3 separate regions of the Homo sapiens genome follow, and all the other regions are linked to region 2. Evidence: fine-mapped expression QTL. Tissue or cell type: monocytes. Region 2 holds a variant in brackets; each other region holds the start of a gene. All regions are shown on one strand. Distances are from middle to middle.

Evidence for each region. PIP is the estimated chance that this variant, and not a neighbour inherited with it, causes the effect.
Region 1: it holds the start of ING2, and the variant in region 2 is fine-mapped to the expression of ING2 in monocytes (Quach 2016, PIP 0.95). The same link has a PIP of 0.9 or more in monocytes after LPS, monocytes after Pam3CSK4 and monocytes after R848.
Region 3: CDKN2AIP starts here. The variant in region 2 is fine-mapped to the expression of CDKN2AIP in monocytes (TOPMed, PIP above 0.99). The same link has a PIP of 0.9 or more in blood mononuclear cells, macrophages after interferon gamma, monocytes after LPS, monocytes after Pam3CSK4, monocytes after R848 and monocytes after interferon gamma.

Annotation. Positions count from the first base shown.
Region 1 is chr4:183,500,908-183,509,087 of GRCh38, forward strand. ING2 (inhibitor of growth family member 2) reads left to right here and starts at 4,151. Exons shown (of 2, transcript NM_001564.4): 1 at 4,151-4,460. The coding sequence starts at 4,289. ING2-DT (ING2 divergent transcript) reads right to left here and starts at 3,608. Exons shown (of 3, transcript NR_033995.2): 1 at 3,269-3,608. RefSeq lists silencers at 3,233-4,272, 4,493-5,212, 5,453-5,502.
Region 2 is chr4:183,462,643-183,470,822 of GRCh38, forward strand. No RefSeq gene overlaps it. Among named protein-coding and RNA genes, the nearest start is that of CDKN2AIP, 22 kb to the left of the region's middle. The variant C/T (reference allele first, on the strand shown) is at 3,469.
Region 3 is chr4:183,440,784-183,448,963 of GRCh38, forward strand. It overlaps CDKN2AIP (CDKN2A interacting protein), which reads left to right and starts at 3,853. Exons shown (of 3, transcript NM_017632.4): 1 at 3,853-4,286; 2 at 4,752-4,882; 3 at 5,305-8,180. The coding sequence starts at 4,015. The coding sequence ends at 6,644. RefSeq lists a silencer at 3,328-3,877 and an enhancer at 4,158-4,307.

The DNA of each region.
Region 1 (8,180 bases), 38 kb after region 2:
TTAAAACTGAGTTCAGTGGAGACGCACACCATTAGGTTTTGTTTTTTTTTTTTCTTTGAGACGGAGTCTCGCTTTGTCGCCCAGGCTGGAGTGCAGTGGCATGATCTCCGCTCACTGCAACCTCCGCCTCCCGGGTTCATGCCATTCTCCTGCCTCAGCCTCCCCAGTAGCTGGGACTACAGGTGCCCGCCACTACGCCCAGCTGATTTTTTGCATTTTTAGTAGAGACGGGGTTTCACCGTGTTAGCCAGGATGGTCTTGATCTCCTGACCTCGTGATCCGCCCGCCTCGGCCTCCCAAAGTGCTGGGATTACAGGACTATTAGGTTTTTCTTTAGTTGCTTTTTGTACTAATGAATTGATTTAAAGTTTTAGGGTTTTTCACTATAATTTAAGATGCTTCACTGGACCTTCTAGAACAAATTACACTCTAACACAGCCTCCTAGATTACTAAGGATTTATTTATTTGCATCAGGTACAATTACATTTCTTACAACACGCTATCAATTGGTGACTTTTCATATGAGGATTTCTTCTTGAATTTCTCCATATTTAAAGCAGTGATTTTAAACTACTTAAATATCTTCCTCAGAAAAACATTGCTCTCTGCTTCACTGAATTAAACAGGGAATTAACTGCCTCTTACTGGTTTGGAAAAGACCTCAGTAACCAAATAAAATGCATGGGATTTGCTGGATCCTGTTAAACCAAATGTGAAAGATTTACTGAGACAATAGGAAAATTTGAATTGTGTAGTTATTAAATGATAGTAAGAAAATTTGGGGAGGCAGAATACATGGTATTACGGATATGCTTAAAAAACTGTTATCTTGGCCAGGCATGGTGGCTCACGTCTGTAATCCCAGCACTTTGGCAGGCCAAGGCGGGCGGATCTCTGGAGGTCAGGAGTTCCACACCAGCTTTAACCAACATGGTGAAACCCCCTCTCTACTAAAAATACAAAAATTAGCTGGGCATGGTGACACATACCTGTAATCTCAGCTACTTGGGAGGCTGAAGCAGGAGAATCGCTTGAACCTGGGAGGCGGAGGTTGCAAAGAGCCAAGATCGCCCCATTGCACTCCAGCCTGGGCGACAAAAGCAAGTCTCAGTCTCAAAAACAAACAAACAAAAAACAACTATTATATTTTACCTATTCATATTATTCATATTTAAAGTATTTACAGATAAAATGATAAAAATCCAGCAAGAGTGAGGGAATGTGAAGGGCTATAGATTAAATAATCTTAGCCATATGTTGCTAAATGTTGAAGCTGGGTAGACGGTATATAAGGATTTATTGTAGTATTACTTTTGCCTTTGAAAATTTCCATAAAAGTTTAAAAATATTAAAAAGTAGAAAAAAGAAAAGGATTTCATTTATTTGATCTGACTCAAACAGAAGCTGAATTTTCTCAGCAGGCATCTTTAGGAATCTTTCACCATTACTTGCCAGTTTGTTTTCAACCAGTTTGAAGTTGTTGCTCTCCCCAAGAGACAGGTACGGAGGCGTACACATTTCCTGCCAGGGACCTCTTAAAGTCAGACTTAGAAATTCAAGGTAATCCCAGACTAATTTGGGGAGATCAGTTACTTATCTTTTTTTTAGGGTTGCTTTATGGTAGATAATACACTGTAGAGCAAATAAAATGCCTTTTTGCTTTATTCACAGGATTAAATACCATAAATTAATTTCTAGTTGCTGAGAACGGGAGATTTTAAATTTTGCATTTAGAAGACAAGAAATTCAATCTGAAGAGGCCCCATATTTCCAGTTAAGTGACCACTCAGAAGGGAAGGACAGCGCTCAATAACCAAGGTCAAGAGTTGGGTTTAGGGTTTGTGGCGATTTTTTTTGGGGGTGGCAAGAATAAGCCGTAGATTAATCTCTTAAAATAAATATAGCAAGAAAAGCATGCCTAAAATAATTCATACATATACATATATTATCATATTACAGTGTTTTACAGTTTTAGATCAGTACCAGCTAAAATATTCTTTGGATTGTTTTTGCTTTTTTACCAGCCTGTTCAACAGAATTATAAAAGGTGACAATAATGCTATAAATGTCTCCTATCCCATGCTCATCCCTCCTCTCATCTTGCTCTGTTTCTGGAGTACTCTAGGTATTCTGCATCTTTGCCTTTTTCCCCTTCTAGTTTCTAAACACATTTCTTATCTACTTGCAGATCACTTATCAGACTGAATAAAATCCATAGGTACATTCGGTGTCTGACCTGTAACAAGGCACCCCACATTATTTTGCGCCTTTGATAAAGACCAGCTTATTCAAACTTGTGAGAAAACAAAAATAGCAGGGTTCAAGTAAAAACCAGTAAAATTCAGTTCTTCACAGTGGCGGTTTTTTGACAAGACCCGGCCGAAAGATTTCACGAACAGTAAAATCCCAGAATGTTCTCAGAAATACTATCCACTGTACTGTCTGGGTTGCTTAATACTGGCCCAAACCTCAGTGTCCTAGGATAATAACCCAAGACAATTTCCCAGTCCTTTGAAATAGTTGACGTCCCAAGATGTCAAATTGCCTGGAGTGCTTTATTTTGGTTTGAAATTTAAAATTTCCTCTAGATAAAGATCTAGATTTCTCTTTGCAAGTCAAAGGCTAGTTACTATTAACAGCTGTTTCAAAAGTGCTCTAAATAGGTCACCATTCAGGTGTACCAACGCTGCAAACTGGATCTAAGAAGATCCAAATTTGTCACCACTCACTCACATTTTAACTCAAAGGTAGTACTCACAATTGGCCTTGTTTACATAGGCATTCCATTAAAATTATCCATGCATTCATTCTATTTGCACCCATTTCTTTCAAAAATGTCCATCTGTAATTAAAATCAGCTCCTCTGCCTGACATCTCATTTACACTACACCGAAATTAAACCCCACTAGGAGATCACGTAGATTATGGGGCCGAGGGCCCGCCCGCTGACTAGGTTTTCACTCGCGTCTCCTCCATGCCCCAGGTCCCCTCCGATTGCAGTCCTGGGGCAGGACTGAGCAAAAAGTCCCGTAAAGCTGGCGTGTGCCCCACTCCGCCAGGAAGCCTCACCGACGTCCTGTGCTTAAATGTTCTGACACCCCCCAAAAGCAGTTGTTTTTAAAGGCTGTCTGTGGGACCAATGCGTTGTCAAACAGATGCCGTCCCGCATCCCCTCCCCCTAAATGACACAGAAGATTCCAGCGTAGGGGAAGGGCCACGAAACCCGCAGGGCACACGACGCCGGGGGCCGGAGGGAGCACCGCCTACCTCCCTGATCAAGCCCCGCGGTGCCGGGCGAGCCCGAGGGCCCGGCAGGAGGCGGGCGGCAGCCCCAGGCGAGCTCGGAGGCGGCGGGAACGCAGCCGCCGCGCATGCCGGGAGCCGCACGCCGCCCGCCGGGGCGCGCAGTCCCGCAGGCCTCGCTCCAGGTCGTCCGAAAAGGAACCGCCTGCTGCTCCTTTGCAGGCTCGCGAGGAGCCGCACTCGGACCGCCTGATGGGGAAAAAGCCGGTGTGGCCGGGCGGAGCGAGCCGAGCGGAGCTGGAGCTGCCCCTCCCAGCGGGGAGGACGGCACGAAGGACCGAGCCGCCTCCCCTCCCGGGTCCCATTCAGACGCGAGGCGCAGAGACTGGCTCCCCGGGCTTCCCCTTTAAGGGGGGCGGGGCGCGGCCTGCCGTTTGGCCGCCCCCCACACCCTCCCCCGCTAGCCCAGAGCCGGCAGACCAATCGCCCGGGCGGCGGAGCGAAGGCGGGAGAATGCGAACCCTCCGGTAGGCGGTAGGGGCGGGCCCCGGCCTTATTCGCAGGGAGCGCTGCGCAGGCGCAGAGGCGGCCGCGGGCGGAGGGGCGGGGGCAGGCTAGCGGGAGGCTCTCCGTGAGGCACGGAGGGTGACTGGGGACAGGCGGGCGGCGACGGGCTTGTCATGGGGATCCGGGCTGCGAGACGGCACTCGTAGCATCTGGGGACTCCGAGGGGGACAGGAAGTGTCAGCGCCCGGGACCCCGGCGCCGGCCCCGCCGAGGGGATCCCCACTGCTCCGGTCCTGGAGCGGGAGGGGAGAAAGGAGGGAGCCCCGGTTTCGCCCCGCCCCTGGGCTGGTGCTGCGGGGGCGGGGAGTGAGGGCTGCTCTGGGGGGAGTGGAGATCGGGGAGCGCGGCCGTGCCCTCTCGAGCGGCTGCGGGGTCCCCGCGGCGCCGGGCTGCTGAGCTGAGGGCCCGCGGCGGCCGCGGCCGGTGCATGTGCGGCTGCTGGATGCGGAGGCGGCGGCGACGGCGCGGATCGGCAGGATGTTAGGGCAGCAGCAGCAGCAACTGTACTCGTCGGCCGCGCTCCTGACCGGGGAGCGGAGCCGGCTGCTCACCTGCTACGTGCAGGACTACCTTGAGTGCGTGGAGTCGCTGCCCCACGACATGCAGAGGAACGTGTCTGTGCTGCGAGAGCTGGACAACAAATATCAAGGTAGGAGCCGCGGGGCTGCCGGCCTCGGGAGCCGGTGGCGGGGAGCCTGTCCGGGGGAGTGCCACCTTCCCTTTCTCCCGTGACAGTCTCCCCGAGCGCACCGAGGGTCTGCCGAGCGGGACTGGGAGGACTGGAGACCGGGTTGGCGGCCCTCCGTGGCCCCGCGGTGGGCGAGTACTTCTCTGGGGTCCCCAGAGTGGGGGTGGGGGCCGCTTGTCAGCCCCCGCTGCAGACCCAGCGGCTGCAGCTGCCGCTGAGGGGAATCAGCCATTTTAAGCAGCAAGCATTTGTTCAGGCGCTGGCCCGCCCCGTGCCGCAGACCCTGCGGCCCCGGCCCGGGACTGCAGCCGGGCAAGGGTCGGAGGGAGTGAGCGGCCGGGCTCCCGCTGGTCTGCGGGGCGCGCTTCCCCACCTCACTCGCCCCCACCCCGGAGTGCGGGTGCTTTGGAACGTGCGGGGGGAGGGGGCGAGAGGCCGCGGAGGCGGACTGAGGGGGCCTTCCTCCGCGCTCCTGCCCCGGCCCGGAGGAGAGCAGTCCGTTCCGCTCTCTCGCCCCGGGAAAGTTCGCGGGCGCCCCGCGTTGTAGCCCTAGCCCAGTTCTTTCGGCAAAATGGTTAAGAGGGGAGGGGTCCCCCGCGGGAGAGGAAGAGAGGGGCGTGTGTGGCGGGGAGGGCCCCCGCGCCGGGGGCGGGGCCTGCGGGCTTGACGAGGGGCGTGGGAGGGGCGCGGCGCGCGTTCCCGCGGGCCTGGAAAATGGCTGGTCGCGAGAGGGGCGGTGGCGAGCTGGCTGCTGGGGAGGGAGTCGGGGCTGTGCGGGGGCGTTGGTTCGGCCCCAGCGGAGTCCGAATCGGGGTTTGCAGCATGTTTTGCGGTGATGTTTCCAACCTCTTTCCCAGTCAATGGATCAGGACGGCGATCAGCAGCTCGGACCGTCGCGGATCCTGGCTCCGCGTAGGTTCCGGGACATGTGTCACTTCCGGGCTTCAGGAGGAAGTGGGTTGGTTGACTGGGCAACCGCCTGGCGTCCCCGAGCCCCTCCTTCTCCGACTTTAAGTGTGGAGGCGAAACCACCCTTTGCCGGCCGACCCGGGAACCCGGGACAGAATCGACCTTCCTTACAGTGTTACCACCTACTATCGGTGGTGCTACTAGGAGGGCAGTTTAAAAGGGGAAATGTGTTGCGCTTAATAACCTTGAATCGAGGAACAGACCTTGAACATAGTATGGAAACAGCCATACGAACTTTAAAGATAATTTCCTGGACCCATTCTCTGTTTTTGTAGACACGCCAGTAATCCTATACTTTAAAAGTCTCTAAGGAATCCACTTCTTGGGTGACATAAGTGTCTGATGTTTTTTAGTTTATAAATTTGTTTCTGTTTTCTGAATCCATAGGATTCATAGGACTGATCCGTGTTTGGGGAGGGGGTGGGGAGGGAATTAAAACTGATGCGCTGGGTCCAGACCATTATATAAATATTTCTTTTACAGATTACAAAGAGTTCAAGTAACTCGTCCAGTTAATTCGATGTAGAATATTTGGCTCCAGAGCCTGCTACTGTAGATGCATATCTTTGTTTTCAAACAATTTAAGTTTTAATAAAAACTGTCCAAGGGGATTTCTACAGATATGGAGCACAAACATGAATGGTAACCTAAAAATGATACGTGCTTAATAATTGTATATGGAACCTTTCTAGTTTTTCAGATAACACCAAAGTTTGTAAAGCTTGTAGTTTGTGTTGTTGTTTTAGACAGAGCCTTGCTCTGTCCCCTAGGCTGGAGTGCAGTGGCTCGATCTTAGCTCCCTGCAACCTCTGCCTCCCGGGTTCAAGCGATTCTCCTGCCTCAGCCTCCCGAGTAGCTGGGATTACAGGCAACTGCCATCACGCCGGGCTAAGTTTTGTATTTTTAGTAGAGACGGAGTTTCACCATGTTGGCCAGGATGGTCTTGAACTCCTGACCTCAGGGGACCCGCCCGCCTCGGCCTCCGAAAGTGCTGGGATTACAGGCGTGAGCCACCGCGCCCAGCAAGCTTGCAGGTTTTTACATTTCTTTGAAGGCACATGTTTCCTTTCACAAGAGTTAAGCTATTTGAAGTTGGTGAGGGATACTATAATTTGTTGACAGGGAAATCTTTCGGATCATCTATAATTGTCAGGTATTAATAGCTCTGGTAACATTAGTAATATAGTAGGCCTTACAAGATTGAGAGATTATACAAATTCTTAGCTCTATGAAGTTTGTGATTAGTGATTAAAAACTCATCTAGTTTTCACTCTGCACGTGGTTACTGAGCTCAACTTTCACAGTTTTATGTTTATGTATATTTTGGGTTCAGATTTCATGTTTTTTATATCTTCACTAGTGCTTAAGTATTTTCTGGTTTTGGATCTAATATTTCTAGCAATATTTAGTGATATAAATTATATAGGCAGTCAAATTTCTTTCTAACCTACTTGAGACACTTTCAGAACTGCTGAAAAACTTATAAAATGAGAAATAAAGAAGAAAACAATTTCACAATTGAAGTACTTATTATGGGATAGGGTTATTAGAGAACCTTTATTTTTATTCTAGTGTTCCCACTCATAATTTCTTAGATAAATAACAACCTTCAAACTAAACTTTGATACTTAATTTCAAGTGCCTTTCATATAGTTTATAGAAAGTGCTTACACTGCGAGGTCAGACATACAGATCTGGCACAGTTCAAAGTCTGGGGTTCTTATCTCTTGAGTTGCAGTTTTTTTCACAAGCAGAAGTGATGGCTTCCTCATGGGGTTGCTGTGGAGATTAACTGAGAAAATCTTTACCACATAGAAGGGGCTGAGTAAATGTTAATTTCTTGTCTTCTTTCACTATATAATACGGTATCTTACAAATTTTTTATCTCATCTATCAATGTGCTGGTATGATATATACTGTACTTAGCCTCTAACACCTGATTATTAGGTACAAAATATTTGAAAAGAGGTTTGCCTCTTTTTTTTTTAATCCTCAATTTTTTATGTGTCTGAGGGAACCAGTTTCCTTATTTTTCCTGTAGGGAAATGAGGTTCTTAAGAAATCTGCTTAGATGCCGAGCTAAGCAAATGGAATAGACATGAACTTTGTTCGAAAATATGCTATGCAGGTGTAAGTACTCTGAACTGTGTGGTGGCACTTTGTTATATATTCCAAGTTAGACAGTTGTACATCAAGTACGAGTACCTGCGATTTCCAGGGAGAAGCTGATTAATGAGTTCTGTTGAATATTTGCTTTTGTGTGCCTTACTTGCAGACAGCCCCAATGTATATATCTACTTGCCTAACATTTCTGTTTTTAATAATTATAATATTGGAATATAAAACTAGTATGCCATGTGGTATGAAAAATACCATGCGGACAGAACTCTTTGAGATAGCATTACATCTTGTAAGAATAAGAAATAAAACGGATTCGAGCAAAACTAATCTTAAGTAAATTTTTGGTGACATCTGAAATTATATTTTCAGATTTTTGGATACCTTCTAGTGACTCAGCTATTTTTACTTGATTTAAGTAAGTGTATTCCACGTGCCATACAACTAAATCAGCAGTTCAGAAAGCTCAGAACCAACTACTGATTTATCTACAAAGGCAGAATGATCGAGTGCTGACTTTATTGTAATTTTGTTAGTGGTTTGGTCAGTTGATGCCAGAACCAGAACCTACTCTGGAAATAGTTTCATTTTCAG
Region 2 (8,180 bases):
TCCGCCGGCTTTGGCCTCCCCAAGTGATAGAATTACAGGCGTGAGACACCGCAAAGCAGGAGTACACTCAAAAATAACAATGAAAAATATAGGATAGTAAATACATAAGCCAATAACATATCCCTTTATTATCAAGCCTTTCATTATGTGCTGTGCATGATTGTATGTGCTATACTTTTAGATGACCGGCAGTTCTGTAGGTTTCTTTACACCAACATCTTCACAAACACGTGAGTAATGCATTGTGTTATGATGGCTATGATAGCACTAGGTGATAGGAGTTTTTCAGCTCCATTATAATCTTATGGGACCACCACGGTATACATGGTCCATTGTTACCAAAACATCGTCATGCAGCACATAACTACTCATGTCTAAAAAAGCTATCAAAGACATTGGAAAAATTCCATATTCATACTTGATGTAAGTTCTTAACAGGAGTATACAAATACGTTGTTAGCATAATGAAATATATTTATCTCAACCACAAAGAATCTGTTTAATATGGAAACAGCGTGGATGTAATATTGAAACACTCCTGCTAAGTTATGGACAAGATAAGCACTTTTTTTTTGGTGGGGGGATGGAGTCTTGTTCTGTTGCCCAGGCTGGAGTGCAATGCCGCGATCTCGGCTCACTACAACCTTCGCCTCCCAGGTTCAAGCAATTCTCCTGCCTCAGCCTCCTGAGTAGCTGGGATTACATGCGCGTGCCACCACGCCCACCTAATGTTTGTATTTTTAGTAGAGATGGGGTTTTCACCATGTTGGTCGGGATGGTCTTGAACTCCTGTCCTCATGATCCACCCACCTCAGCCTCCCAAAGTGCTGGGATTACAGGTGTGAGCCACCCTGCCTGGCAAGTACTATCTTAAGCTGAGGAGATACGCCATTTCTCTTACTGTTTCCTGTCCCTGAAGAGAAGGAGGAAGTAAAAGCTGAAAAACAACAGAAATGAAGTCAGTGGCAAGACCAACCGGTGCCACTGACCAGGCCTGAGGTTAAAGATTAACCCCCCACTCTAACTACGTGTATTACCTATAGATCACTTGCTGGATATCTTTCACGTAGACCCCCATAGAGTTGTAAGCCCTTAAAAGTGTGTCCAGACTTGGTTCCCTCTGGTGGATTCTTGGTCTCACTGACTTCGAGAATGAAGCTGCGGACCTTCACAGCGAGTGTTACAACTTTTAAAGGTGGTGTGGACCCAAAGAGTCAGCAGCAGCAAGATTTACTGTGAAAAGCGAAAGAACAAAGCTTCCACAGAGTGGAAAGGGACCTGAGCAGGTTGCCGCTGCTGGCTGGGGGGTGGCCAGCTTTTATTCCCTTATTTGTCCCCACCCATGTCCTGCTGATTGGTCCATTTTACAGAGTGCTGATTGGTCCATTTTACAGAGTGCTGACTGGTGCATTTTTACAGAGTTCTGATTGGTGCATTTAATCCCTTAGTTAGACACAGAGTGATGATTGGTGTGTTTTTGCGGAGTGTTGATTGGTGCACTTACAATCCTTTAGCTAGATGCCAAGTGCTGATTGGTGCATTTTTACAGAGTGCTGATTGGTGCGTTTACAATCCTTTAGCTAGACACAGAATGCTGATTGGTGCGTTTACAATCCTTTAGCTAGACACAGTGCGCTGATTGGTGCGCTTTTATAGAGTGCTGATTGGTGCGTTTACAATCCTTTAGCTAGACACAGAGTGCTGATTGGTGCATTTTTACAGAGTGCTGATTGGTGCGTCTACAGTCCTTTAGCTAGACACAGAGCGCTGACTGGTGCATTTTTACACAGTGCTGATTGGTGTGTTTACAATCCTTTAGCTAGACACAGAGTGCTGACTGGTGCGTTTGCAATCCTCTAGCTAGACAGAAAAGTTCTGCAAGTCCCCACTCAACCCAGGAAGTCCAGCTCGCTTCACCTCTCAAAAAGGCCAGGAATTTTTTCTTCAGGGAGCTTGGTTCTTGAGATGCAAGTCTGCCAAGGTTCCCAGCTAAATAAAGCCTCTTCCCTCTTTCAGCCGGTGTCTGAGGAGTTTTGCCTGCAGCCCATCCTGCTACAAAGCAATATAATTAAATGAGAGAAAACCAGCCTGGTCAACATGGTGAAACCCCGTCTCTACTAAAATACAAAAATTACCCAGGCATGGTGGTGGATGCCTATAATCCCAGCTATTTGGGAGGCTGAGGCAGGAGAATTGCTTGAATCTGGGAGGTGGAGGTTGCAGTGAGCTGAGACGGTGCCATTGCACTCCAGCCTGCCATTGCACTCCAGCTGTGCGACAAGAGCGAAATTCTGTCTTAAAAAAAAAAAAATTCAATGAGAGAAATATATGTTTAAACATTGGAAAGAAGGTAAAATCATTGTTATTTAGATATAATTGTATACTAGAATTTCCACCCATAATCAATTTAAAAATCTAAATAAATAAGTGAATTCAGTCAAGTACCTGGGTATGAAATTAATGCCAAATACCAATACAAATCTGGTGCTTTAGAATATAAAAATAACCAACCAGAAGACATAATAGAGAAGACCTTATTTACAATAGCAACAGAAAATAAACTATTTAGTGATAAAGAAGCATTTAAAATCTGCATGCAGAAAACATTGAAATACTAAGGGACAAGAAGGAATTTTTCAACAAACAGGAAAACACATAAAGCTCTTAGATACAAAAATTAACTTCATAAGTGTAATAGTTATGTTTGTTTATCTATATTTTAACATGATCCCAAGAAAAATACCAAGAGGATTTGTATACTAGATAAGCTGATTCAAAAGTTTGTAGGAAAAAAAATATAAGTAGTCAGGAAAACTCAGAAAAAAAAAGAATAATGAAGGGGTATTATCCCTACCTGATATTAAAACATATTTTAACCCTATAAATAAAAACATATTTTAACCCTTGGAGTCATAAAAGTTAAAATTGTATAGTAGTGGAGCATAACAAGATAGGAGATAAATGGGAGAAAATAGAAAGTTCAGAAATCAGTCAAATTTTCTAGGGAATATAAAATATGATAAAAGCAGCATTTTGAACTAGTGGGAGAAAGATAGCTTAATCAAAAACTAAATTAAGTAGCAAATTGGAAATGAAATTAAGATCCATCTCTGCTCTCCAACTTACACCAAGATAAATTCAAAGACTTAAATATAAAGTGTAAAACTATGAAAGTACTAACATGAGCAAATTAATCTTGAAGTATGGTGTGGGGTGGGGGCTGGTGCTTTCTAACTTTGACACAAAATTCAGAAGCCATTAAAGGAAAATACCAATTACTATGCTGATATGTTTTGGTTGTGTCCCTACCGAGATCTTAATGTGAATTGTATCTCCCGGAATTCCCACATGTTGTGAGAGGGACCCGGCGGAGGGGGGGTGATTGAATCATGCAGGCCAGTCTTTCCCTTGCTATTTTTGTGATAGTGAATAAGTCTCACAAGATCTGATGGGTTTATCAGGGGTTTC[C/T]GCTTTTGCTTCTTCCTCATTTTCTCTTGGTGCTGCCATGTAAGAAGTGAATTTCACCTCCCCCCATGATTCTGAGGCCTCCCCAGCCCACATGGAACTGTAAGTCCAATTAAACCTCTTTTTCTTCCCAGTCTCAGATATGTCTTTATCAGCAGTATGAAAACAGACTAATACAGTAAATTGGTACCATTAGAGTGGGGTGTTGCTGAAAAGATACCTGAAAATGTGGAAGCGACTTTGGAACTGGGTAACAAGCAGAGGTTGGAACAGGTTGGAGGGCTCACAAGAAGACAGGAAAATGTGGGAAAGTTTGGAACCTCCTAGAGACTTGTTGAATGGCTTTTTCCAAAATGCTGATAGCGATATAGACAATAAGATCCAGGCTGAGGTGGTGTCAGATGGAGATAAGGAACTTGTTGGGAACTGGAGCAAAGGTGACTCTTGTTATGTTTTAGCAAAGAGACTGACAGCATTTTGCCCCTGCCCTAGAGATTTGTGGAACTTTGAACTTGAGAAAGATGATTTAGGGTATCTGGAAGAAATTTCCAAGCAGCAAAGTATTCAAGAGGTGACTTGGGTACTGCTAAAGGTATTCAGTTTTGTAAGGGAAGCAGAGCATAAAAGTTCAGAAAATTTGCAGCCTGACTATGCAATAGGAAAAAAAAAAATTTTCTCGGGAGAAATTCAGTGCAGCTGCAGAAATTTGTGTAAGTAGCAAGGAGCCTAATATTAATCCCCAAGACCATGGGAAAAATGTCTCCAGGCCATGTCAGAGACCTTCATGGCAGCCCCTCCCATCACGGGCCCAGAGACCCTGGAGGAAAAAGTGGTTTTGTGGGCCAGGGCCAGGGTCCCTGTGCTGTGTGAAGCCTAGGGACTCAGTGCTGTGCGTCCCAGCCCCTCCAGCTGTGGCTGAAAGGGGCGAACACACAGCTCGGGCTGTGGCTTCAGAGGGTGGAAGCCCCAAGCCTTGGCAACTTCCACATGGTGTTGAGCCTGCAAGTGCACAGAAGTCAAGAATTGTTTGGCAACCTCTGCCTAGATTTCAGAAGATATATGGAAATGCCCAGATGCCCAAGCAAAAGTTTGCTGCAGTGGTGGGGTCCTCATGGAGAACCTCGCTAGGGCAATGCAGAAGGGAAATGTGAGGTCAGAGCCTCCACACAGACTCCCTCCTGGGGCACTGCCTAGCAAAGCTGTGAAAAGAGAGCCACCATCCTCCAGGGCCCAGAATGGTAGATCTACTGACAACTTGCGCTGTGCACCTGGAAAAGCCACAGACACTCAATGCCAGCCCATGAAAGCAGCTGGGAGGGAGGATGTACCCTGCAAAGCCACAGGGGTGGAGCTGTCCAAGACCATGGGAATCCATCTCTTGCATCAGCGTGACCTGGATGTGAGACTTGGAGTCATAGGAGATCATTTTGGACCTTCAAAATTAGACTGCCTGCTGGATTTTGGACTTGCACGGGCCCAGGAACCCCTTTGTTTTGACCAGTCTCTCCCATTTGGAATGACTCTATTTATCTGATACCTATACCCTCATTGTATCTAGAAAGTAACTAGCTTGCTTTTGATTTTACAGGCTCATAGGTGGAAGAGACTTGCCTTGTCTCAGGTGAGACTTTGGACTGTGGACTTTTGGGTTAATGCTGAAATGAGTTAAGACTTTGGGGGGTTGTTGGGAGGGCATGATTGGTTTTGAAATGTGAGGACAGAAATTTGGAGGGGCCAGGGGAAGAATGATATGGTTTGGCTGTGTCCCCACCCAAATCTCAACTTGAATTGTATCTCCCAGAATTCCCACATGTTGTGGGAGGGACCCAGGGAGAGGTAATTGAATCATGGGGACCGGTATTTCCCATGCTATTCTCATGATAATGAATAAGTCTCATGAGATCTGATGGGTTTATCAGGGGTTTCTGCTTTTGCTTCTTCCTCATCTTCTCTTGCCGCCACCATGTAAGAAGTGCCTTTTGCCTCCTGCCATGATTCTGAGGCCTCCCCAGCCATGTGGAACTGTAAGTCCAATTAAGCCTTTTTCTTCCCAGTCTTGGGTATGTTTTTTCAGCAGTGTGAAAACAGACTAATATATCTGTTTACATAGAAAAAATCTGCAAGGCAAAATCCTTTGACAGAGTATCCGTCTTTGTGGATAGAAAATTGTAGCATTTTAAAGAATCAAGTTTAAAATACACAAGTACACTAAGCGTTAAGTGTTTGTGGACAGGGATGACCTGCTTTTGCACATCACCAAACCTTATGTTCCAGTGTGGGGGGTGGACAATAAATGTTTGAAGTCTCTATGGGACAGAGGAGTTCCAGAATGCATGTGCCACAGTGGGCTGAGACATCACCCTCTGCATACCGAATCACCTCAGTCCCCCAATCTCCTCTCGGATGCCATGACTGACAGCAGTAAATAAGCTCTCGCCGTTGGAAAACTGGAGTGAAAGTTTCATTCTAAAAGAAGAATTTTAATGCACTGTGACTCAGCTGCCCATTCCTGTTGTTTTGCTGCTGTAAACATTGCAACACATGGATTGTGCAGGGTAGAAGTGAACTGTATTATTACTTATTAACTTTTGCTTGCAATTCTCGTCTAATATTTATTATGCCCTCTGTTCATGTTTGTTGGTGTTTTTTAAAGTCTGATGGTTAAATGTAGCAGTTTTTAAGGAAAATATACTAAATGGAAGAGCAGTATTCATAGGCTTATACCTGTGAATAATTCTGATTAAAGCTAATTACAACCTTCTGAGTCATTTCATGATTCAGCATTAATATGATTAAGGATGCACCAAAAAGTAACAATCAAAGTTACTTGTTGATGAGTTTTAGGTGGTCTGGTAATTCAAGTTGGCCTAGTCTGTTATATGTTGAGTGTCATCTTACAAATACAGCAGTGGCTCCAAAAAATTGGAAAAGAACCTACCTACAAATCACAGCCATTTAATAGTAAAAGTGCTGATGTTTTTTAAATGACTATTGGAAATTCCAAACAGGGAAAGCTCTCGCAAGAAAAAAAAAGAAAGAAAGAAAGAATGAAAAGAAAAGATAATCACATTCAGTGGAAAGGCTTACAGCAACTTATTTACTAGCTGGACTAATTGCTCAAAAAAGGAAAAGTCACACCATTGGTGAGAATCTCATTAGGCCAGCATGTAAAATTACAGTGAGTAAAACGACAAGATAAGATGCAGTATAAGAAGTTGACAAGGTTCCACTTTCAACAGTATAGCTCAACATAGTGATGACATGTCACATGATGTGGAAGAGGATTGGAATATGCTACCCCAAAATATGCCACTGTGGCATATGAATTATTTTGAGCTGAAGGCATTTGAGAATTAGCAGATGCAAAGAGAACCTTCCTGGGGCTTTCCCTATCTGACTAAAAGCAGAAATGCCTGAGAAATGAGAACTGCCATAAATCTCCTCTCCCAGGGACATTTTATGACCATGAAGAAAACAGAAAGTTGGCACCAAGATGGACCTGCACAAACCAACCTTACTAAATTAACCCTTATCTTCCATTACTTTCCCCATATGTCTATGATCCCACAGAGGGCAGCCCCTAGAAGCTTAAAACCCTTTTCCTGCTGGTGTGGTGGCTATACCTGTAGTCACAACTACTCAGGACTGAGGTGGGAGGATTGCTTGAAGCCAGGAGTTCCAGGCCAACCTGGGCAACATAGCAAGACCCCATCTCTCTTAAAAAAAAGTCCTTTGTCTTGTCACTTTTCCACAATTTATTGCTCTTTGTTGAAGATGGTATATAAGCTCTCAGATCTATCTGCTTATTTGGCTCTTCACTTCTTTTCCAGGAAGGCCCTTATATATAAAGATTAAGATCAAATAAAATTTGTATGTCTTTTCTCCTGTTAATCTGTCTTTCATCAGTCTAATCTTCAGTGCCCCAGACAATGAACCTAAAGGAGCAGAGGAAAAAGTTTATATTCCTTTCCTGTGATGCTGAAGAATTTTGCGTAATGAACTGGAAAACAATAGCTTCCTTATTCAGGTTGATGAGTCAACAGACGTTACCAATAAATATCACTGGGTAGCACTGGGAAGATCTGTAAGTAATGATGAATCTCAAGAAACCTTCCTGCTGTAAAAATTCACCTCAAGGCCAAGACACATTTAAGGTTCTGTCTTCCTACCTGGAAACAAAAGCTCTGTCTTGGAGGAACCATGCTCACAATCTGGACCATAGGGTCCCACGCATGGATGGTTCCATAAGAATTTTCACCTCTTGGCTGGGTGTGGTGGCTCACGTCTATAATCCTAGCACTTTGGGAGGCCAAGGCGGGCAGATCACCTAAGTCAGGAGTTTGAAACCAGCCTGACCAACATGGTGAAAACCTGTCTTTACTAAAAATACAAAAATTAGCTGGGCGTGGTGACGGGCGCCTGTAATCTCAGCTACTCTGGAGGCTAAGGAAGGAGAATCACTTGAACCTGGGAGGCAGAAGGTGCAGTGAGATGAGATTACACCACTGCACTCCAGCCTGGGTGACAGAGCAAGACTCCATCTCAAAAAAAAAAAAAAAAAAAAAAAGAATTTTCACCTCTTGTAAAGAAAGAAAATTCTGACAAAGTCACAACACACTACTTTCTTTATAGAAAGGTATTGAAGTAAAAAACTCTTGGAGGTGAAGTGACCAAAGTTCTGAGTGATTCTCAAACATGAGAAACTACATTTTAAA
Region 3 (8,180 bases), 22 kb before region 2:
GTCTTCTTTTAAAACAGAGGAAGTGTCTGCCCACCTAAGGTTAATCTCTCCACCTGTGTGTGGATCCCAGCCACACCTATGTCTGCAGAAATTGCTAATTACCCTCTTTTTCTTCAGATCCTCAAACTCTCCTTTTCTGTGAGTTGCCTTCAAGCAGTGGGCAACATGCTCAGGCTACTCCCATCTGAAATTGAAGCCACCTTGACCCCATGACCCTGTCCAGCTTCCTCTATCTTCTCCCCTTTACAGCCAAATATCTCCATTTCCGACTCCTGAACTCACTCTGATATGGAGTCTTCATCACTGCAGTAAAAACGGCTTTTGCCAAGCTCACAGGTGGCTCCAGTCCGTAATCAGACTGTTACTACCTATCTTCATCCTACTTGATTTCTCAAAGCTTCTAACAGAGGGGATCACTCTTAAAACATTCTCTTACTTTTTCAGAACATCCCACCTTATCACTGTAATTTGGCAGATTTGTGTCCTCACACATCATTAGCATAAAATATTTCCCCTCACCATGAAGTATTTCTCACATCAAGTCATAACCTTGGCCATAACTGGAGTATTTGCTCCTCACAAGCCTCTCCACATGCAGACCTTCCTGCCAAAGGCTTTCTTGCTTCCACAGTCACATCCAGGAACAGGGGCAATCCCTTCATGTTGCTCCATGGGAAAGCCATCTGCAGAAAAGCCAGCTTGCCGCTGGAATTTTTATTGGATGTCTTCAGAGAGATATGCTACAGAACCAGTTTCAGTGAATGGGCTTCCACTTACAGCAGAAAATTTAATCCTGTGAACTCAGTCACTTGTTTGAAACTCAATTTGGGATGATAGTGGATCTTTCTCAATTCATTAGAATTCTCTCCCTTTTCTCCTCTGAGTAGATTTCTAGTGAGGGCAGTGGTGGGGTGAGGCTTGGTTATCATCCTAGCATTGTCTTGTGCTTTCTTCCCTGTGGGCTCTGCTGGGAGTATAACTGCTTGATCTACCAGCACAAGCAATGCACACTGATCATTTCAGGAGAGGTTGAGGGTCCTCTCCTATTGATGCGGCCTGACGGGCACTGGTCTGATGACTTGCTGAAAACTAGCTGCATCTCCCTTTGCTGACAAGCTGACCACCCCTAGCCTCATTCACCTTGGACCCTGGTGCTTGGTAGGCACTTCACCATTCAACTCTTTCTTGGGAACCTTTTGGATCTCCTCTAGGCCCTGTGAGATATATGTGCGTAAATGCGTGTGTGTGTGTTATGTATATATACACACACACATATGTATATATATATACACACGTGTGTTAGGAGCAGAGGAGGGAGTTGTATAGTTGGTTATCAAAGCTATAAAAGGCCCTTTCTATGTTCATTTCTAAAGGCCAACGCATACAGGCTCAGGGCACGATTGGGCTGTCTTCTCTCAGAAACTCGGGCAGAGCCAAGTCCTTCTGCTCTTAGACCCAAAATCTACCTAGCAATTTCTAACAGCCAACACTTCCCACCCTGCATCTTATTCCCTACTCCCATAGACTTTCCTAGTTATCACCTAAATTCTCCTCTCACCTTTTCTCTCAGAACGTCTCCCCCAGCTTAGAGAGGAATTTGTCTCTGTAGGTGGGAGGGTCTTTAAAAAAAAATGAGGCCGGGCACAGCGACTCATGCCTATAATCCCAGCACTTTGAGAGGCCGAGGCAGAAGAATTGCTTGATATTAGGAGTTCAAAACCAGCCTGGACAACAGTGAAACCTTGTTTCTACAAAAAAATAAAAAATTAGCCTGTCGTCGTGGTACCCGCCTGCAGTCCCAGCTACTTGTGGTTCATAGTCTTTGAATCTTTATATGCAAAGTCAACTTTTTAAGAATCAAAAAAGAAAAATGCATGTATCTTTTATTCCAAGCACCTGGTTTTTGCACAAGTACTCCATCTTTCAGACTCTATCGCTTTTATTATAATTAAAAAAATTGTTTGAAATTCAGGCTCTACTTGTTCTCCTTTCAAGGCAATGAAGCCCATGAGTGGGAAGAAGACTACAGGGCAACAAGAAAAAAAGTGAGAACATTATTATTATTATTTTTTGAGATGAAGTCTCACTCTGTCACCCAGGCTGGAGTGCAATGGCTTGGTCTCGGCTCACTGCAACCTCTGCCTCCTGAGTTCAAGCGATTCTCCCGCCTCGGCCTACAGAGTAGCTGGGACTACAGGCACGTGCCACCACACTTGGCTAACTTTTGTATTTTTAGTAGAGATGGGGTTTCACTACATTGGCCAGGCTGGTCTCGAACTCCTGACCTCATGATTCGTCCGCCTCGGCCTCCCAAGGTGCTGGGATTACAGGCGTGAGCCACTGCACCTGGCCGTGAGAACATTCTTGATTTAAAATGCACATATATAATCTAGGTATGCGATCATAGCTTCTTTTACTTGCCATGGTCCCCTTGCCAAAGAATTCATGAAAGGAGAAATCGTAATTTCTCCACCTTTTAAATAGCCAGATTTCTGCAATCCGTCCACCCCCTCTAGATTTTCAGCAATTATCTGTGAAAAGGAGGAAAGAACAGCAAACTAGAAGCAAAATCACAAAGCTTCAAAATTTCTTTGTGCCTCCGTTTTTATGTAGTTTCTTTTGGTATGGCAGGAAAATGGGCAATATTGTTTTCATACAATAGCTGTATTTTGTTCCAGCATGCACATAAATTACACAGTTAACCTTATCTGATCTTACCTAAAGTGACCTTTTTTTGCTTGCTTATTCTGATTCATGCATTTTTACATCAAAGTCTACATTTATTGAAAGAAAAATTTCATAATTTATATCATTTAACGTATTTATCTTACAGTGCATGTATACCTGGAATGGGAAACGTAACAATAAGCCAGCCAGCAGTTAGAGTACGTAACTGTGGGAAATGTAAAGTGGAAAAAAATATATAGAAGGAAAAAACAGCTCTAACAGGGAGAGAGGTTTGGGGCCCTATAGATAAATAGGTACATTTCCACTCCACCTCCGGACATCTGCCGGTTGGTGGTAAAGCTGTTGATTTTAGGAAATTCTAGAGACAGAGCGTTGTCGGGGTGTTGTTTTCCTACTGACCAGAACAGGAAGGCAATGCCTGGATTAACTAGAGACCTAATAAACTGCGGGAACAAGCCCTACCGCTGCGGGGCCAGGGCCAGCTTCGAAGGCTGCAAGCCTCACGGCAACACGGAGCCAGGTCCTCGTGTGACCTTACTGTCTACTGCTGCTATGTAAGGGGACTGGCACTCCCGCCCTCCTGAAGGCGCGGAGACCCCGACGGCCTCGGAACGCTTCGCTCGGGCACACTGAAAGCAGCGCGAGACGCAGCTCCCAACACTCTAACATGGAGGCCGGCTTTTGTTTGTTTTGGCCCCGCTCACACACAGGCGTCTCAGGGCGGAGACCACAGGCCCCGCGGCTGCGGGCGGCTCAAGGTCCCCCGGGACGCCCCCCTAGCGGACTTTGGCCGCCGCGCCCGGCTGCCTCCCTTGCCCGGGCCCTGCCCCTCTCGCCTCTGCTCCCGGCGCCGCAGCTGACCCGGCGGGGGAGGAGGACGGCAGGAGCGCGCGGCGTCACAAAGCGAGGACAGAACGCCCGGGGTTCCGCCGAGACTCGGTCGTCCCAGGCCAGCTCGACTTGCAGTCCGCCCTCGTGGGGCGGGAGACGCCCGACGCCCGCCCACCTCACCCCCGGGGTGCCCTCCGTGGCCTCACGGGGACGCAGCGTCGCAGCGGCCCCGGCGCCGCAAAGCGTCTTGGGAGCGCCGGCTCGCGCCGGAAGAACGCGAGGGCGCGCGGCGGCGGCGAGGTTATAAAAGGGAAGAAGCCGGCGGTGGGCGGAAGTGGGCGGTTCGGCGGCTCTGGGCGCTGTTGTTTGGTCTTTAGGCCTGCGGAGGGGCGTTATCTGGAGGGCCGCGGGTGCAGGCCGCAGTGACAGGGCCGCTCGCCCCGCTAGTCCTGCCTGTCTCCCGGTGCAGCTGTGTTCGCGGCCTGCAGGCCCAACATGGCGCAGGAGGTGTCGGAGTACCTGAGCCAGAACCCGCGGGTGGCAGCCTGGGTGGAGGCGCTGCGCTGCGACGGCGAGACTGACAAACACTGGCGCCACCGCCGGGATTTTTTGCTTCGCAACGCCGGGGACCTGGCCCCCGCTGGCGGCGCTGCCTCCGCTAGCACGGATGAAGCTGCCGACGCCGAGAGCGGGACCCGAAACCGGCAGCTGCAGCAGCTCATCTCCTTTTCCATGGCCTGGGCGAACCACGTCTTCCTCGGGTGCCGGTGAGTGAGGCAGCGTCCCTAACCAGCACGCCTCGTTTTGTGTGCCACCTGCAGACCGGGGCCCGGCGCCCTCCGCGGGACCGGCCTCGGCGGGGAGGGGAAGTTGTGAAGCGCGGGAATCCGCCGGCCCGGCTGCCCTCTAAGGGGGAGAAGGGCGTCCCTGCGAGGAGCCGACATGATTCCCGGACGTCTGTGTGCCCGGTGGTGTGGGCGCAGCTGCTGGTAGGGTTGCTTGTGTTAGGGAACAACGCTCTTGGGGACGGGTGCGAGATTTAAGATTAGTGAGGAGGTGCCCTGCCTCCCAGACCCTGGGGCACTTGTTTATGGGGTTCCAGGAAACAGTTCTTGGCGGTTGGTTCACTTTCTTGATTGCAGCCAGGAAATGCAGTCCCTGTGGCCTGTTTTTTGCACAAGTAGGACCTTAGAAAAAACACTTTTTAAAAATGACTTTTCCTTCTTTTTCAGATACCCTCAAAAAGTTATGGATAAAATACTTAGTATGGCTGAAGGCATCAAAGTGACAGATGCTCCAACCTATACAACAAGAGATGAACTGGTTGCCAAGGTGAAGAAAAGAGGGATATCGAGTAGCAATGGTTAGCAGATCATAGATGTGAACATACATAGGAGTTTAGAGCATAAGTTTGATATAATTAGGAATTATTGTTACTAATTTTTTTAACAAGCCAGAATTTTTATGTTATTAATAAGTAATAAAGTTGGAATGTTAAACCTAAAGTATATATCTGTGTCTTTAGGCTTTGAATTTGATAGTTTGCTTTGACTGCTTTAGATTTTGAAGTGTCCACTGTTGTCTGATGCTGTTATTTTTTTAATATTAGACATTCATGATGTTATTCAACACTGTTTTAAGAAATTAATGACTCCACACTTTTTAAAGAAACGATTAGTCTTGAAATGTTTTCACTTTGTGCCTTTATTTTAATGTGTATTTGTCTCATCACCCGTTTTGTACGAGGTATTCTTAGTCACATATCTATGTTTTTCTTCTTTTTAGAAGGGGTAGAAGAGCCATCCAAAAAACGAGTTATAGAAGGAAAAAACAGTTCTGCAGTTGAGCAAGATCACGCAAAAACCTCTGCCAAGACAGAACGTGCATCAGCTCAGCAGGAAAACAGTTCAACGTGTATAGGGTCGGCCATCAAATCAGAGAGTGGGAACTCAGCTCGGAGCTCTGGCATCTCCAGTCAGAATAGCTCTACAAGTGATGGAGATCGATCTGTTTCCAGCCAAAGCAGCAGCAGCGTTTCCTCTCAGGTAACAACGGCAGGATCTGGGAAAGCTTCTGAAGCAGAAGCTCCAGATAAACACGGTTCTGCATCATTTGTTTCCTTGCTGAAATCCAGTGTGAATAGTCACATGACCCAATCCACTGATTCTAGACAACAAAGTGGATCACCTAAAAAGAGTGCTTTGGAAGGCTCTTCAGCCTCAGCTTCTCAAAGCAGCTCAGAGATCGAGGTGCCCTTGTTGGGCTCCTCAGGAAGCTCAGAGGTAGAATTGCCACTATTGTCTTCCAAACCTAGTTCAGAGACAGCTTCAAGTGGGTTAACTTCCAAAACTAGTTCAGAGGCAAGTGTTTCATCATCAGTTGCTAAAAACAGTTCCTCATCAGGCACATCCTTACTGACTCCCAAGAGCAGCTCTTCAACAAATACATCGCTGCTAACTTCCAAGAGCACTTCCCAGGTAGCTGCATCACTACTAGCTTCCAAGAGCAGCTCCCAGACCAGTGGATCTCTGGTTTCCAAAAGCACTTCCTTAGCAAGTGTGTCCCAGTTGGCTTCTAAGAGTAGTTCTCAGACTAGCACCTCACAGTTGCCTTCTAAAAGTACTTCACAGTCAAGTGAGAGTTCTGTCAAATTCTCTTGCAAGTTAACCAATGAAGATGTGAAACAGAAGCAACCTTTTTTCAATAGACTATATAAAACGGTGGCATGGAAGTTGGTAGCTGTTGGTGGCTTTAGTCCCAATGTGAATCATGGAGAGCTCCTAAATGCAGCTATTGAGGCTCTGAAAGCAACACTGGATGTATTTTTTGTCCCACTAAAAGAATTGGCAGATCTGCCTCAAAATAAGAGCTCTCAAGAAAGTATTGTTTGTGAATTGAGGTGCAAGTCTGTGTATTTGGGCACTGGCTGTGGAAAAAGCAAAGAAAATGCAAAAGCAGTTGCATCAAGAGAAGCATTGAAGTTATTTCTCAAGAAAAAGGTGGTGGTAAAAATATGTAAAAGGAAATACAGAGGCAGTGAAATAGAAGATCTAGTACTCCTTGATGAAGAATCGAGGCCTGTAAACTTACCTCCAGCACTAAAACATCCTCAAGAATTACTATAATGTGTCCAAAATATCACTGCATACAATATCTGGTATTTGAAGAGAAAAACTGACTTTTGTATAGTATAAAACACAGGCTTTCACAAATTTTGTATTGCTTTTTTTCCAGTTTTGCAGAAAATTTACATTCTAGTTCTCTTCACACAGTAGCAGTTGTAAATAATTTATGAATGACAGTACACATTAAAAGGTATGCATTAGCAGCATATTAGTATGCTGTTTTATTTGCTGAAGAAAATACTGTCTTCTATTTTTAATGATACATTAGGTACGATGTGTAGTTCGGTAGAGTCCTAAAATTTTTGTACTACTTTCAATTTGGTGAAAATGTATTAAGTTGTCTACCATGTTTTCTTTTCTAGCTGAATAAACCACATCAAAGGAAAGGGACCACAGTATTTGAATGTTTGAAAGTCTGTAAAGCTTAAGGTTTTAAAAATGTTGCCCGTAATGTTGAACGTGTCTGTTAAAAAATAAAAGAAAAAATAGTTGCTTCAAACTATTTTTATGAGAAGTTGTAAGCATTTTTTAGATATAAAGCAGTATAAAGTACTTGTTATTTTACTCTGAAGTTGTTTAAAATTCACCATGACTTTGACCGCTGAAGATTCTTTAAGCGGGTTAATTTATGTTTTGAGGTGGAATACAATTTACACTTTTTTCTTAAAAACATGAATGTGGGTTTCTATATTAAGCATATTTTGTGACTACTATTAACAGATTGATTTGTTTAGATATTAAATGCTTTAAGCTATTTTACCTTTTCAAGAAGTTGTGTTTTTTTTCTCCAAGTCAGAACCAATTCCTGCAAATAGGCTTCCCATGACTTGTCATTATAAATTAGACAACCAGGTAATTGTGTGATATACATCTTTATTTAATTTTTTTTTTTACAGCAATCCCCTGAGCCAGAATAGATTAAAAGCGATTCCCTTCAATTTTCAAATCTAGAACTGGATGGTTTTTGTGTTTATGCATCTTTTAGAATACCGGAAAGAACAGAGAGCCGTGTTCAGCTCTTGATAATGAGCCTATTCAATTTAACTACATTCGTTAAAATGAAGTGGAATTTTGTTTTCGTCTTAGGTGATTCTGCCTGTTTGTCTGTCATTGTATATTCTGTTTACTTTGCTTCAAACTGGCCCCAAGATGTTATTTTTGTGGTTTCTGGCTTTCTAGATTCTATTTTTAGATACTGCCCATTGAGCAATAATGGTGATAATATAGAGAGAAAAGAAAGACCTTTCATGGGCCAGTTGTGTTGGAATAGGAAAATCAAACGTAAGCACAATTTAAGTATGTAGCAGTTATTCCTATTTTGTATTCTAGGAATAAAAAGATACTTTAATTTTTTATGCTAGAATTACATAATTACATAATCAGATGTTTTAATTTTACCATATAACCTTTAAAAATGATTCATTTTTGAGGATATTTAATTGGATACCAAAGCTAAAATCCATATACTGTAAGTGGGTTGCCTTTATAGATTGCGGGACACAATAACATGAATGTATTGTGAAAGCACTTTTAGTT